2 separate regions of the Homo sapiens genome follow, and region 1 is linked to region 2. A link means that fine-mapping ties the variant in region 2 to the expression of a gene that starts in the linked region. Tissue or cell type: CD8 T cells. Region 2 holds a variant in brackets; the other region holds the start of a gene. All regions are shown on one strand. Distances are from middle to middle.

The links. PIP is the estimated chance that this variant, and not a neighbour inherited with it, causes the effect.
Region 1: it holds the start of ZFX, and the variant in region 2 is fine-mapped to the expression of ZFX in CD8 T cells (CEDAR, PIP 0.95).

Annotation. Positions count from the first base shown.
Region 1 is chrX:24,146,651-24,154,755 of GRCh38, reverse strand. ZFX (zinc finger protein X-linked) reads right to left here and starts at 5,027. Exons shown (of 10, transcript NM_003410.4): 1 at 4,962-5,027; 2 at 2,956-3,065; 3 at 1,926-2,036. ZFX-AS1 (ZFX antisense RNA 1) reads left to right here and starts at 5,102. Exons shown (of 3, transcript NR_046657.1): 1 at 5,102-5,201; 2 at 5,914-6,003. RefSeq lists enhancers at 1,096-1,185, 4,571-5,384, 5,591-5,690 and silencers at 4,021-4,530, 4,581-4,630, 4,651-5,060, 5,121-5,480.
Region 2 is chrX:24,209,403-24,217,507 of GRCh38, reverse strand. It overlaps ZFX (zinc finger protein X-linked), which reads right to left. Exons shown (of 10, transcript NM_003410.4): 10 at 1,253-7,315. The coding sequence ends at 6,132. Among named protein-coding and RNA genes, the nearest start is that of ZFX, 64 kb to the right of the region's middle. The variant AAAC/C (reference allele first, on the strand shown) is at 3,828.

The DNA.
Region 1 (8,105 bases), 63 kb after region 2:
GTAAAACAAGTGGCACTGTTTTACATTTTTGCAAATCTCTTTCATGTCTGGCTTAATAGAAACCGGCTGGATTCCCGTAAGTGTTTCTGCATTCTATCTATTATGACATCATATGTCATGCAGCCTCTGTACAGTATTCCTATAGTGTACAGGAAAATGTGGGTGAAAAGAGCAAATAAAAAGTATTATGAAAATAGTTTTGACCTCATGGACCCCCTGAAAGAATCTTAGGGATCCCCAGGAATCCCTGCAGCACACTTTGAAAACTGCTGGACTAAACACATTACATGGATAAATCTCAAAAACACACTGTTAAGTAAAAATAATATATAAGGTATGGTTATGATACTGTTTATGTAAAGTTAAACACACAAGCAATACCTGATATTGTTTTGGTACATACATATTGGGACAGGTGGTTACTTCTGGAGAAAAGAAGACAGGAAGGGGATGGGGAGGGACCCTTTGAATCTGTGAGATTTTATTTCTTTAAACAACAAAAAGATATGAATCAAATATGTAGCAAAATATTAAGATCTCTTAAATCTGGGTGATTCTGATTTTCAGTAATTTAAAAATATTCCATAAAACTTTTTAAATATATTTTTTAAATGCCTAATGGCTGTGTACCTCAAGGCCACACAATTTCCTTAGAGTATACTTCCTTTGAGTAAAATACAATTACAAGATACCTGGGTTTTATAAAATGTTGTCTGGAAAAATAACTTGGCAGGAATAAGAATAGGCTGGCCATATTCCAATCAGATAAGGGGTGGTGGGAGGGGTTACTCCTTGACCTGGTGCCCTAATAAGTGTGCCTTAATATGTATGTCCCTGAGTCAAAAAACACACTGACTGGATACCTGATTTTTGAACAGCTGAAAACTATTAACTACGTAGAATTCTCTGTACCCAGTAACCGAAATTATTGCTTTGAGAGATAATGGTCCATATGCCAGGTACTGCTTGGAGACAAAGATAAATCAGAACTTGTCTCTATATTCACAGTGTAGAAGGAAAAAATATAAACACACAGTTCAAATATAATACATTAAATGATAAATTAAGGGGAATCCCACCATAGAAGACAGAGAAGGCACAGAGAGTTTCTGAAACACAGAGCACTTTTATATAACACACCTGTTAACATGCTGTGCAAGTTTCCCAATTTGGGTAATACTGGATTTAAGAATAAGTGGGGTGCAAAGAAAGTGAAGACAGGTGAGGCTTTTGTAAGATGAGCAAACCTAGGAATATTTGTAAAGAGAGGTTAATGATGCAAGAGACGGCATCACGCACAGAGCTTGGTCCCTAAGGAGGCAGCCAGGGTGAAGAGCAGGCTCAGAGCAGCAGTGGGGCTTGTGAGACAGCAATCCCTCCTGCAACCTCCCCTGCGGCAAAAGGAGGAAGGCCTAGGTGAAGACAGGAAAGGCATGAAGGGGAAGGGAGGGGAGACTTGGCTCTTTATCAGATGGCCATCTACCCTTCTCAGTGAAGTGAAAGACTGGGTAATCTTTGCTGAAGATGAGAGATTTCAAGGACCCGTTGAGTAGTTTTAAGAGTGAAAAAAAGTTTGGAATTGCCAGTGTACACAAGAACAAATAATACAAAGAAGATTATCAGTGACAGAATCAGTCTAAATGGGTTAAGTGAGAGTAAGCATTTGCAATGAGAGTAAGCATTTACAAAAAGCAATGTGGAAAAAAAAATTTGTAACACATTCGTGAGCATGTTTTTTTAAAAAAAGAAATCTGCATCTATCTGAAAAATACACAGAAATTAAAAACTAACACCTTATTCATCCAGGGTGGTTGGGTTCGAAGGTGTTCCACCAGTCAGTTTTCCAAAGTTTCAAGGTCTACCCTTTCAGGCAAAAATAATTTTATATTTAACCATTTCTAATTGAAACTAAACTACACACTTACCTGTCTTAATCACACAACTTGACTCTAATCTTAATCTTGAACATCCACTGTTGCTGTACTGCGCAGCAAAACAATTCTATCTTCTTAATAGTTCTTCTATGTCTTTCCCAGCTGTCAAAATATAAAAGCACCTGGTTCTTCTAAGTTTATGTTTACCCTTAACACCTCAACAACCACAGCCCGCCTTCTCAACTTGCTTCTAGTCAGCCTCATGCAATGCACTGTTTCTCGAACTTTTCTAAACCATAGCCCTTTATAATAAACATGAGACTCTCATTCCCTCCAGCCCTTTCATGGAGCACCGCTGCTCACGACCTGTTACAGTCTAGAAAAATGGAAAAACTGAAAATGGGTATCTATGCCACCTAAAGGTTTCCATCATAAAATTCTAGGAAACAGGCAGGGCACGGTGGTTCATGCCTGTAATCCCAGCACTTTGGGAGGTCAAGGCAGGCAGATCACTTGAGGTCAGGAGTTCGAGACCAGCCTGGCCAACATGAAACCCTGTCTCTACTAAAAATACAAAAATTAACCAGGCATGGTGGCAGGGTCCTGTAGTCCCAGCTACTCGGGAGGCTGAGGCAGGAGAATTACTTGAACCCGGGAGGCAGAGGTTGCAATGAGCCAAGATCACACCACTGCACTCCAGCCTGGGCGACAGAGTGAGATTCAGTCTCAAAAAAAAAAAAAAATTACCACGGGAATACTCATTTCTCATTTTCGTCAAATAACCCACAGCACTAGTCCTGTACTTTTCAACCATGGTAAATGAAATGTTAGAAACCCCTCCCTATTTGTGTACCATAGAAATTCTGACAACTCTGAGCAAAAGATTATTTCGGATGAGAAATCAGGATAGAAAAAAGGAGCAGCTGTCTTAATAGAGACGCATCGTTCCAAAAGTAGCAAAATTTGCTTAACTTCTGAACATTCTTGTAATCGTTCTGATAATGAAAACACTGATCAACTTACTACTCTCATTATTTTTCAACTTTGAAACTTTTCCTAGTCCAATGGAACTACTAAGTACCGTAAAGCACAGCTCAGGGAACAGACGGCAGTGACAGGCGGGCAGTGGGAGGCGGGAGAACGGCTTGAGCCCAGGAGTTCGAGACCAGCCTGGGGCAATATAGCAAGAACCTGTCTCAAAATAAAAAATAAGTAAATAACAAGGTGCAGCTCAGGTGTGCCATCACTCTTCTAGTTGAGGGCACCCCCGCTGCCTACCCCATTGAGTATAAGCCCCTCCACCTGGCAAGCAAGCCCTTCTGCAATCTAACTTTTCTAGCCTGAATTCCCACCACTCCCCTACCTATACCATCCACTTTTGCCAAACTGTAAATACTTACTGTTTACTGAAGAAGCTTCACCCTTGAAACGTCCTTTCTCCACCTCCACCTCTACCTAACAAAGTCCTACCCATCCCTCGGTAACCTTCTCAAAATGCCACCTATTAATACTTCAGGAACCCGTCCCTCCCTGATCCTCCAATGGCAACCTTGCTTCCCTCGGAAATCCCAGTAATTAGTTGTACCTCTCACTTTACTGCATTTCACCTTGCCCCACCTACCTCTAAACATGAGACTTCTTGCAGCCACCGTCTGCATTACAAGAACCTTTTTAATGTTTCTTAGCATCTAGCACGGTGCATCGCTAACAGTAGGCTCCGAGTTTATCAAGAAAGTTGCACAGTGTGCAATCAAAAAAGTACGTTAGGGGATGAAACTCCGCCTTAAAACTTCACAAATGAAAAATCGAAATACCATGACAGGCAAATGCACAATAAATATGCACCACACTAAGTTGTCCTCCAATAAGAAAATAAAAAAGTCTGCCCTTATTCCTCGATTTAAAAAAATACCACCAACAGATCACTACTTAAATCGTTTTTCAAGAAAGTTGTTTCCACATAAATGAGTACGAATGATTCAAAATTTTATTCCTCCGCTCTCGTGTTGTGCAATTTTTTTCCCTATAGGACAAAAGAATGGCAAAAACTTTCCCATCAATCTTTATTTTTCTTCCTTTATTCAGATACTCGGGGCGGCAAAGATTGTTGGAAAAACAACTGCATCGAAAGCACCTTAGCAGCCACATATGATTTGACTTAAGCAAAAATAACATTTCCTGGGGTCCCGTATGCCCTGGTAAGCCCAGGTGTCCGGAATGCCACCTGCCCCGACTGCCCTCGGGTGGCTACAGGCGCGGGGGAAGGCGCAGGGCCAGGGGCGCTGAGGGTGAAACGGTCCCGGCGTCCGGGCGGCGGCGGTGGCCGCCTGCGGCAGCTCAGCTGAAACGCAGCGGAAACTGCAGCCAGTCACGGGGCTGCGGGAGGCAAGGCAGGAAGGTGGCGCTGCCGCCGAGCGCCTGGAGCCCGAGCGCTCATCATGGCGGCAAGGGCAATGGCCGCCACGGGGAGCGAGCACGCCCCTCCGCGCGCACACGCCGCCGCGCCGGGCCTCCGGGGCCCGTCACCGGCGCCGCTGCCGCCGCCGCCCGCTCTCCCACCCCCCCTCACGGGCTGTAGCGGAATTTTCTCTCCAGACACCGCCTCCAAGATGGCGGCTCCCCCTCCCGGCAACCCCCTCTATCGTCCCCTGCAGCAGGCGCCGAGCCGCCGCCATCTTGTCCCCCGTCCCTCCCCCCCCCTCACCGATATTTACATAGCGAAAATCGGCCCGGCCGGCCTGCGGCCTTCACCTCACGCCTGCAGCCTTCGCCTCCTCGCCAGGCCTCACCCCGGCGCGGTGCCCCAGGTCGGCCGCGGAGCCGACCCGGGGCCCCTCGACCGCCTCCGGCACAACCGGGCGACCCTCCCCCAACCCCCGCCCGCTTACGGAGCGCGCCTCCGCCGCCGCTCGGGGCAGCCGGGCTCCTCCCCGGGCCTAACTGCGGCCTCCTCGGGGCCTGCTCGGCGCCGCGCGCCACGCCGCCCGGCCTAGCGCGGGAGGGCGCCTTGCGGGCCGCCGACCAGGCCGAGACCAGGCCGCTGTGCGCGCACTAGGCCCCGCGGCCGCGGCGGCACCCGGGACTCACCGGACGGACGTGCGGGCGGCCGGCGACGGTGGCGGGTGCTGCAGGCCGGCCTTTCTCTGGAGCACTGGGCCGGGCTCCGGCTGGTGGGGCGGGCGGAGGGAGGGAGGAGGGGCCGAGCTCGGAGCTGACAAAAAGCGGCCCAGCTCCCCGGCACGGGCCCGCCGTCAGCACGTCACGTCACCGCCCGGGAGAGAGACCCAGGAAAATGCGGAAGGGTAGACAGGCCCCCTCCTCCGCCCGGTGGGTCCTCCTGGCACCCCGTGTCGGCGCCGCTCCCGCCCCGCGACCGGGGAGCCCAGTGGCCTCGCTGCGGCGGGGTCTCCGGCGGCCGGAGTCTCCGTGACAGCGCCCCCCTTCTTTCCACCTCCTCCGCGCTCCCGCCCGCCGCCGCCACACACGCGCCGCTGCCGCCGCCGCCTCGGCCGTAAAGCCCGCGCGGGGCCGCGGTCGGCCGACCCCGCGGAGAGGCAGGCGGCCCGGCCGCCCCCCACCATGTCCCGTGGGCCGCGGCCGCCCCCCGGGGGCCTCCCTGGAGACCTACCGCCTCTCGCGCCGGTCCTGGCCGAGGCTCCAGCTCGAGTTGTTTGCAGGCCCTCAGACCCCCGCCCGCAGTAAATGTGTTTTCTTCATCCCCGTGGCTGGGGAGGAAGATAAATTTAGCAACCCCCGCCGTCCCCTGCCTTCGCTTAAAAAAAAAAAATCTTTGAAATAAAATGAAAACGGGCTTGCCAGTCTAAATGGGTGTGCGGGAAGGGGGGTGGAGTGGGGGGAGAAGGGTTATCCCTAGAGCACCTACCAGGCCGTCTACTTTTTAAAAATAAGCAGTCAGAGCCAAACTGATTTTATTAGTTTGTACGGGGGAGGGAGATGAGCAAAGTTGCATTTTGAAACGTTTCGCACGTTGCAAAGAACAGGAATTTTCTGTGTATTTTCCTATGTACCCGTGTTTCAGAGCTTGGGAGCCTGTGAAATGTAAGACTGGTGTCATCGTTTCATAAATCATGAATTTTCCACATTCCTTAATAGAGAGGAGCCCAATTGGGTATGGATTTTTTTTTTTTTAAACACACTGCTTAAACAAGCCTTTTGAAGTTTCAAAAGACTTGGGAGAGAAGGGGAAAATGATTAAACAGCACTTACCAACTTCAAAAATGTGTATTTCGCACTTTACTTAGTTTAAATGTTTATGCTATCTTTCCATGCTGAACTTGGAACCCAAACTCTGTTTTAAAGTTACTAGGGAAAAGTTAAATAGTGGAGTCTTTACATTAATCTGGAATCTGGCATGCTATCCTTTAACACAGCACTAAATGTTAAAGGCATTTTTAAACAATAAGAAACACAAAAATTATAAAGCAAATAGTATACTGGTGTGAAATCTCTTTAAATACAGAGGCCACGTATTTTAGTTGCCTGACATAACTCTTTAAAACTCCCAGAATGCAATTTGTCCCTTCCCTCAGACATCTCTCAATCACAAATGCTTTCAAAAAGGAAAAACAAAAGTAGAGTAAGAAGAAATCTCTGAGCATGCACTGGATGATAATTTTCCTCTCGGGGCTTTAGTCTGAATTTTTCCAAGCGATTAAATTTCCTTTCAAAAATAGTAACAGCATGTATTCATTGTTTATAAAAATTACATCAGGCTGTGATAGACTTTCACAGAAAGACATTTCACAGAAAGGTAAATGAAACTAAGCAATGTTGTTTCAATAAAAAAAAATGAGAAATAGCTTGTGTGCCCACATTAATATTTCTTGCACTCCCAGACTGGAGTGCAATGGCGTGATCTTGGCTCACTGAACCTCTGCCTTCGGGGTTCAAGCGATTCTCCTGCCTCAGCCTCCCGAGTAGCTGGGATTACAGGCACTTGCCACCACGCCTGGCTAATTTTTCTATTTTTTTAGTAGAGATGGGGTTTCACCATGTTGGCCAGGCTGGTCTCCAACTCCTGACCTCAGGTAATCCACCCGCCTCGGCCTCCCAAAGTGCTGGGATTACAGGCGTGAGCCACCGTGCCCGGCCGCCCACATTAATATTTCAAAACATTGATAATCAGCGTTTAAGTACTTTCCAAGGGCCTCAGTGTGATGCTACGGTATGGCAAGAATGGAGGCCAGGTTCCCTGGTTCAGTCCTGTAATCACAGCACTTTGGGAGGCCGAGGCGAGAGGATCACTTGAGCCCAGGAGTTCAAGACTAGCCTGGGTAACATGGTGAGACCTCGTCTCTATTAAAAAAAAAAAAAAAGAAGAAGAATAGAGCCTCACTTCATCCATGCAACTGTAAGCAGCATGTTCAAGACAGAAAAACCTAATGTCACCATTCTTGTTAGTTTTTCCATAATTACCATCAAAAATACTTATACATCCACCAGTGTAAAGCACTTAAGAAAACAGTGTCCAAGGAGCATGAAAGAAAAAGAAGTTTTCTCAGTTTAAAAGATCACAAGTAGTTTAGGGATTGATACTTTCAAAGAGCCCTTTGTCATTACTTTTCATACAGGAAGAGACTGTTAACTTTGGTGGGAAACAAAGAAAGGATGGCCTAGTTCTATTAGATTAGATAAACCTTTATTAAAGTCCAGCAAACTTTATAAAGTCCAGTTATTTTATAGATGACTATACAGATAAGGTCAACTATATTTTTTTTAGTTAAAAAAAGGTAAAGTTGTACTTTAAGCCCATTTATGGAAGTCTGTAAAGAACATTGTTTAACTGGTAAAAGAACAATGGTAAAAATCATTTCACTAGAAGTACACTTAGTATTATACTCATGATAAAGTGAAGATGAAAAGGAAGTGTAAACAGCAGAGATCAGAAATTGTTTGATGTGACAAAATACAAAATGCATTTTATGAAAGTACTCACAATAGGACCTTGAGGACACCTAAGATCCTTGAAAGCATTTGGTAATTAAGCACCAGACATCTTGCACTTAAAGGACCTACTGCAGCCTATCTTGCCTTGATAATTGTTTTCGTATTAGGGACCTTTAGAATTCTGGGCACAGGAAGTAACAAAGATGTGCTTGCCCTTGGGGAACTCGAATAAGGAGGCTGTGTAAGGCAAAATAAAAACATTCCTAAGTACTTTCATTTTCTCACTTAAGTAAACATAATAAAAGGAAATTTTATCTAGGGAGG
Region 2 (8,105 bases):
GTTGAGGGGAACGAACTCTCCCATATACTGGTGTAGACACATGAATTACATTTGATGTTTGAAAAAGAAAATCCCTGAACCCAGAATAGAATTGATATTGTGGTTACAAGACAGATAAAAGATTTATGTGTATGGACTAAGACTAGAAGAGAACAAAGACAAGCAATCCCTTTAATAAAGGTGGTGGCCTTGTGGGTGATCATTTTCCCAATTTTTGTTACGAAAGCATGCAATAAAAATAACTTGCAAGATTTCCATCTTTGTATAGTAAGTACATTTGCCCTTTAAAAATTAATTTTCTGAAGAACCACCAAAGCATACTGCCTTGAGAGAGAAAGGAACTTTAGAAAGTCTGCCACAACCACCACTTCAAGGGGGAACAGTAAAAATCAATAAAAGTGGACACAAACATGCAAGGCTAATGGCGAAACCTCACATGTTGCTAGTGTGCTAATGTCAGAGGGCAATCCAGAATTGGACTAACCTTTATTAGGATGATGTAAGGGAACTCTCCCCCTTTTCCTGTGTTCTAGCCTGGGAGGGCTGGAGTAGATGCTCCCTTTCTCTGATGACAGAACTAGTCTCCTGATAGCTCACAAAGGAGTGGAAGGTAGGCCCCATGCCTTCAAATGACTGGCTGCATCAGTCAAGGCCTACATTGGAGGGAAAGAGATTGGAAACAGACTCATCTCAGCCTCTGGGTCTCCCAATCCAGCCTTACTAGAATAAATCGCACACTTAATTGGTGGTTTCTTGTCTATCTTCAATGTGGTTAGAACTCAAGAGGGGAGGACAGGTGACTAGAACCTTCAAAACCCCAACAGATGGCTTTGCAATACCCCTCCTATTTCAAAGAATCTCAGACAAAAGGAAATGGGTTCTGCATTTAAAAGCAGAAACTGGCCTCTTAGAAAGCAAAATAATATAGGTCTAGTTAACTATTCTATACTTTTAGTCAATGTGTTTAGATACTTCTGTGGTAGTTCAGAGCCAAACAACATCTAGAAGTCCTGAGCAGGTTTTTAGTAGCCAAGTCTCCTAGTGGCTTTACAGTCTCGACAGGTCACTGTAATGCCAGATCCTTTGTGTCCACCAATACCAGCAATACAAGTAACATGAGAGACCAATTGAATAGGAAAAACCAAGTAAAGGAAAGTAATTCTTGATTTTGACCTCAAACTTCATGGAGTGAGTACTTCCATCACAGAGGTCAAAACATGATTTTGAAATCCAAGTCGGTACAGATGCTATGCCTATATGCACCAGTGACATGTTCCTTGGTGCTATTATTAGTGTTGAACCACTGAAGGGAGTCGAATCACCTCCAGCTTCAAACAAGTTGGGAATTCATTAACTGTGTGATTTAAGTCTCCTCGTTTCGAGTATATACCTTGTCTATAGCCAACACTCCACTAGGGTAACTTAAAACAAAATAGTAATTTATTTACAATAGCAAAGATGTCAAAAATAACAGGAACAATATATAACAAATCCAAGATTTTTATGAAAAAGGCAAACAGTATATACACGAAACAAAAGATGAAACAAAATCCATAGGGTAAACTTAATTTGACCTTAGCTAAACAGTTACAGAATGTGGCAAAATGGTTATGATTTATTTAAGTAACCCTGGGCCAATTAAACACACACACACACACACACAATCTTTTTCAACCCTTCTCTTTTAAATGCTGAATCTTCCTCTCAACTCAGTTTACCTTTGAAGAATGTAACCATGGGAGGCCACACGAGATTTAGGAAGTGCAGGCTATTTACATGTGCGCTAAAGGCATACTTGTTGACTTGGCAGGCTCACACTTTTAAAACAGCAAATGGAAGGTATAAACTGTCTGGGGTCCTATTTTTCTCTCACTGTTCATTTCTGATTTTTTGTGATAATTTCTTTCTTATCTACCACACAAAATGCTGAACCAGTCATCTTTTAGGTTCCTCAAGTGCTCTAAAAGTGTTTCCCAAGTTTGAACAGGCATCAGAATCACTTGGAGAACATGTTAAAACAAAGACTGCTGGGTCCCACGCCAGTTTCCCAATTCAGTAGGACTAGGGTGGGGCTGAGAATTTGCATTTTTAACAAAGTCCCAGGAGATTAAGATGCTGCCAATGCTGTCCGGCCATACTTTGAAAACCACTGCTCTGAAAGATTGCCCCTTTAAGATATTGATTAGCCATGTTTTTCCTTACATGAATGCTAGAATTTGTGGGAAATGAAATTATTAATACTGAGATTCCCAGAGAATACAAATACAGCAGCATGTTATCGGACTTGTTGGATCACAGACAGGTTAGGTGTCATTTGTTGGGTGTTCCATTACAAAAGTTTTTCAGCATGCTATGTATGGTTTTGTCTGATTTATGGCTCTGGACAGTGACATTCACCACATTCCCTTCGTCATTTACCTAAAATTTTAATTTATTGTTTCAACTATTAGGCAAACGTTTGTTCATACAGTTGGAAGAACTGCAGAATCTTGTCTATAAAATCAAAGATGGCACAACTCTATCTCTTTTGACTCCTGACATTTACTTAACTGCCGATTTTTAACTGTGGCAATGACCATTCCCTAGTATGTTAGCATCTACTAGTCCTCTAAACTGGGCGCAGTGGGGTAACTCGAGGGCATGATTTCTGTTGTGGAGGTGGTAACAGTCCCCACTGATTAAATATGCTGTAAATTAATACTGAAATGAACTTTAAGTGCTCTCAAAAACCACTTTATGCATGAGTAATTTATCTCAGGGGAATTGGAGATGCTAATAAAACAAATCCTTTATGAAGATAAAAGAAAAAATGAATTCCAAGGACATGCTCATCAAAGGACTCACCAATCACCTCTTAACTTCTCTGAAATATTACTTGCAAATTCACAGAACTGAAATATTACCAGTATTTGCATCCGAGTCACAAAATTCAAAGCAATCAAGCACTTTGCATTCCACTGCTGTGAAAAAGAAATTAAGAAATGGGGGGATGAAAATAATCCACTGCTTTTGATGTTTATTAGGTTTACAAAAACTGTACATTTTTTTTCCTTGAGAAAAAGCATTAACTTAGTACTGGTATCAAATAGACTAAACATTCAATAACAGGAAAATATTCTGATTTTTATTTTTGCACGTTATTCTCAAGTACACAATTACAATAATGTCACACATCCCTATATGATTTTCTTTTTATGTATTTTACTTTCTTTACAAAGTGTACAGAGGGAGGGACATACAATATTTAATAGGATATTTCTACAGAACAATAACTTATATTATGTCCTTGTAAAAATCTGTACCTCTTTAAAACATTTAACTGAAACATCCATTTTTTTTTAGCTTTGCTAATCAAAATTGTTTTAAGAATTAAAACTAGGTTGTAACTAATGTCAGTACATAACAGTGACTACAATTTCATTTTCTCTTTATACAGACAAGTATGTTTTATCATATTCACTTGACCAAACCCTTAAATACCTTTTAAAGGTTTTAATGTTGTGCTTTAAAAAGAACTGTGTATGATTCCGGAGTATGTAAGAGAAATATAAAATGTGTGAAGTGTTGTGTTCTTTATCTTTCAGTTTATTTAAAAAAATATAGTTAAATGACCCAATCATTTATATTTTCTGTATTAATTTTATAGGATTTAAAATTAATACATTTCCACTTTCATTTAAGTGTTTTTACATTATTTCTGGGAAAATAAAAATTAAGGGAGATTTTAAAGGTTCTCACAAAAAAACAGACAGAGCTTTCAAGAATCGCAGGGCAATGAATCACGGATCACAAAATTGTAAGTTAGTTTAAAAAAAAAAAAAAAAAAA[AAAC/C]ACATTATGGGGGCCAAGAAGGTACAGGAATTTCCTATAAGATAGGCTAGGAAAACCCATGCCTTGACTTTGACTGGCATTTGGGCTGGAGTTCACACCTGCCTAAAGCACTTGGTTTAAAACTAGACTAAATCAGTCTAGCACTTCAGAGGTTTGCCAAACACCAAATATTTTGATTTCTAACCCTAAAAATATAACTCTTGAATACAAACATCAATGGCAAAGAGAAAGATGAAAGGTAAAAACCTAAGCACACAGGGGATGGAGCACCATAATGAGGTGACAAGGCAGCTATCGGGTGGGAAGACAATTTCTAAATCTCCTACAATGTGCTAGATGCATACGGACCAATAGCCAACTGAAGGGACCCCAAAAACTGTTTTCTGTTCTCCCAGATTCGTCTTAACATAACCAAGTTCTAATTAACCGAGTTTGTTTTATGAATGTATGACACTGATTCAGACCTATGTGGTGTCTGGGCACGGTGGCTCACGCCTGTAAACCCAGCACTATGGAAGGCCGAGGCAGGTGGATCACGAGGTCAGGGTTCAAGACCAGCCTGGCCAAGATGGTGAAACCCCATCTCTATTAAAAATACAAAAAATTAGCCGGGCGTGGTGGTGGGCGCCTGTAATCCCAGCTACTCGAGAGGCTGAGGCAGATAATTGCTTGAACCCAGGAAGCAGAGGTTGCAGTGAGCTGCAGAGGTTGCAGTGATCACACCACTGCAGTCCAGCCTGGGCAACAGAGCAAGACTCCGTCTTAAGAAAAAAAAACAACAAAAAAAAACAAACAAACAAAAAACCTGTGGAAGACTTAGTGATGTTCCAAATAAGGCCTCAGACTTTCCTTATCCACTTAAAACACATCTTTACCTTTTAATCAAAGCCAACTTGAGTGTTAAGTTTTTAAAGTTTGCTAACTGTAACTGAGAAATAACAGATCAGCCTGAACTTGCCGAGTGTGAAGTCATAATTAGCACCCGTTCTCTGGTCCACAGAGCCATCACTTCTTTTCCATCCCCCTCACTAGGTAAGACAGAGTTCCCTCTCAGGCTTCTCAAAGAGAACTGTGGGAGTCATGTCTGGATACTCATTTGCTTTTCAGAAAAACATAAAGACATGGAGGTGAAATTGTATGAAAACATTCTACCTAGAAACATCTTAACCTCTATGTTTCAATTACCAAAGATATTTAAAAGAAAATATCTTTACTCTTTAAAAATACTAGTGTCCTTATTTTCCTTCTAATTCTTCACCTGAGTAGTCTCTCTGAAGAGCATGACTTACAAAATGCTCTCTCATGCATCCCTGGATCTTTCATGTTATTGTAAATTTAATACTTTTCATTATAGATTTTAAACAACTACTACTTGGGGTTGTGTGTATAAATATGTAAAATAAGCAATACACACAGGTACATGATATATATGTGTATATATATAATTCAGGGTACATTTACATACATAAAGTTGCAAAAGATCCTATAAGCCATGAGTTACCTCTAGGAGATTCCAAAATGCAGTCCTCAGTAAGTGTCATTTGTAGCACACAACCATTCCAAGATGAAGCCGCACAGACAGAATAATCAAAATACAACATGAGCAAGCACAGTTTTTCAATAAGGTTTTCTAAAAGTTTGCTACGCTGACAAAAGATGTAAATAATCCAAAGAAAGCCAAAAGAAGTATATTTGAAAAGTAAACACGAACCCAGCCACTGCTCTTTACTCAGCAAAGCCAGGGACGCAACAGCTCAAATGGAAACTTTCACTGTCAAGTGGTCTGAAAATATTAAGCAAGACAAGTAAATGACTTCCATGTTATGATAATTAGACCTGACTGTAAAATCTCCCATTTATATTAGTAGATGTCTCTGACAATTTTATTGTGAGAAATGTATGGGGAAAAAAATGAGTCAACATGAATACTTTCAGAGTTACCAATATAAAGTTACCTTAAGTTAATGGTCTTAGAAGAGTACCATCAAGGTAAGCAAGGTAAATATTTAAATAAATATAAAATTCTAAGATATAAAACTTCGGTATAGAATCAGGGATTACTTTATTAAAAGTAACTAGCATGTTGCCAGTTTTCCCTATTTATTAAACAAACTGAATAGAATTCAGAACACACTACTGAGCAAAATGTATATTTAAAAAAAAGTCAACTAGAAGTAATAATTCTATTTGTACACAGCATAAATCAATATACAGTATTGTATGTGAATGAGACTGATTGGCTTTAAAATGAATTTTCTGCTTCAAGGCCAATATCTCTACAAACGTTCTGTAGAAGTATTGTTAGGGCAGGCCAACTTCTTTATGATGTCGCATTATGTGCTGGTTCTTTTCTGAAGGTCTTCGGAAGCCTTTCTTGCAGTACTCACACCGGTGAGGATAGTCTTTCGTGTGAATGGAAATAACGTGCCGTTTAAAGCCTGAGGCATCTGTAGTGCTATACTCACAGTACTCACACTGATACACTTTCCTGCCACTGTGTGTCTTCATATGCTTTTTAAGCTCACTCTGTTGCCTAAATCCCTTTCTACATCTCTTGCACCTAAATGGAAGATCCTTTGTGTGAACTGAGAGAATATGGCGACTTAGAACAAATGGATCTGCAATCTTAAAGTCACAATGTCTACACTGGTGCATTTTTTTGCCCTTGTGGGCAGCCACGTGTTTCTTGAGTTCTGAAGGCCTGTGAAAGCCTTTATCACACATGTCACACTTATGGGGGTAGTCTTTCGTGTGAACTGAAATTATGTGTCGTTTCAAATCACTTGAGTTCGAACTCTTGTGGTCGCAATGCAAACACTGGTGTGTTTTGCTTTCTTGGTGGATAAGAGCATGTTGCTGCACCTCTTTGGTATCCGAGAAAGTCAGAAGACAAATGTCACACTTGAATGGCATCTCTTTACTATGCTTAGTTTTGACATGCGTTTTCAAGTTAGAAGAGTCTGCAGACCTATATTCGCAGTACTGGCATTGGTACGGCTTCTCCCCAGTATGGATTCTCATGTGCTTTTTGAGCTCTGACGGGTGACGAAAACCCTTACCACACTCCACACAAATATGAGGAAAGTTCTTGCTGTGGACTGCCAAGAGGTGGCGATTCAATAACCCTTGTTCAGCTGTCTCGTATTCACAGAATTTACACTTGTGCATTTTGTTGGCTCCTTTTTCCTTATGCACCATTTTGTGAGTAAACAAAGCCCCTGCATGAGAGAAATGCTTCCCACACTCATCGCATTCAATGGCCTTCTCTGCCTTGCTGGTCAGCTTGTGGCTCTCCAGGTGGTTGTGTAAACTTATCTTCTTGTTGGTAGTGTAATCACAGTCAGTACAGCGGTATTTCTTCTTGGCAAGGTGTTCGGGATGGTTTTTCATGTGCCTTTTCAAAAAACCTCTCGACTTAAACTTCTTCCCACAAATCATGCAAGGATAGACAGTCAAAGGATGTCCATCAGGGCCAATAATTATTGCTAAAAAAGGAAAAGAAAGGAGTATGAGTGCTCAAACCAAGTTCTGTTCCAGTTTCTTTGCGAATATAAAGTGTGGGTTCTGACCACTGTTGGCCAAGGACTCCTAAATTGGACTATTTGCTGCTTAACATTCCTTTTACTGTTTTTCAACACAAGAGATATAGCAACCTAGTCATAGAGAAAATGGTCTGGAAACTTCCTTCATGAAGACTGTACCGCCTTCACTCCCTCTAGTTTAATAAAATTAATGAATATGTAACTTTTATCAATTAGTGATTAAACCTACAGCAATTTAGAAATTGGTGGAAAATTGGCTGGGCACGGTGGCTCACGCCTGTAATCCCAGCACTTTCGGAAGCCGAGGCAGGCAGATCACCTGAACTCAGGAATTCGAGACCACCCTGACCAACATAACATGCTGAAAACCCGCCTCTACTAAAAATATGAAAATTAGTGGGGCACAGTGGCACACATCTGTAATCCTAGCCGCTTGGAAGGTTGAGGCAGGAGAACCACCTGTACCCAGGGGGCAGAGGTTGCAGTGTGAGTTGAGATCACGCCACTGCACTCCAGCCTGGGCAAGAGAGCAAGATTCTGCCTCAAAAAAAAATAAGTAAATAAACTGGTGGAAAATTATTCATAAAAATAAACTTTGGTGACAAAAATTTCCACTGTTTATTCCAAAAAACATAACTTACGTTAACTTACAGCAAAGTTTAAATATACCCATAAAATTTTTAATACGCAAATCATCATACAAGAATAGGAATGTCATATGAACTAAAGTACT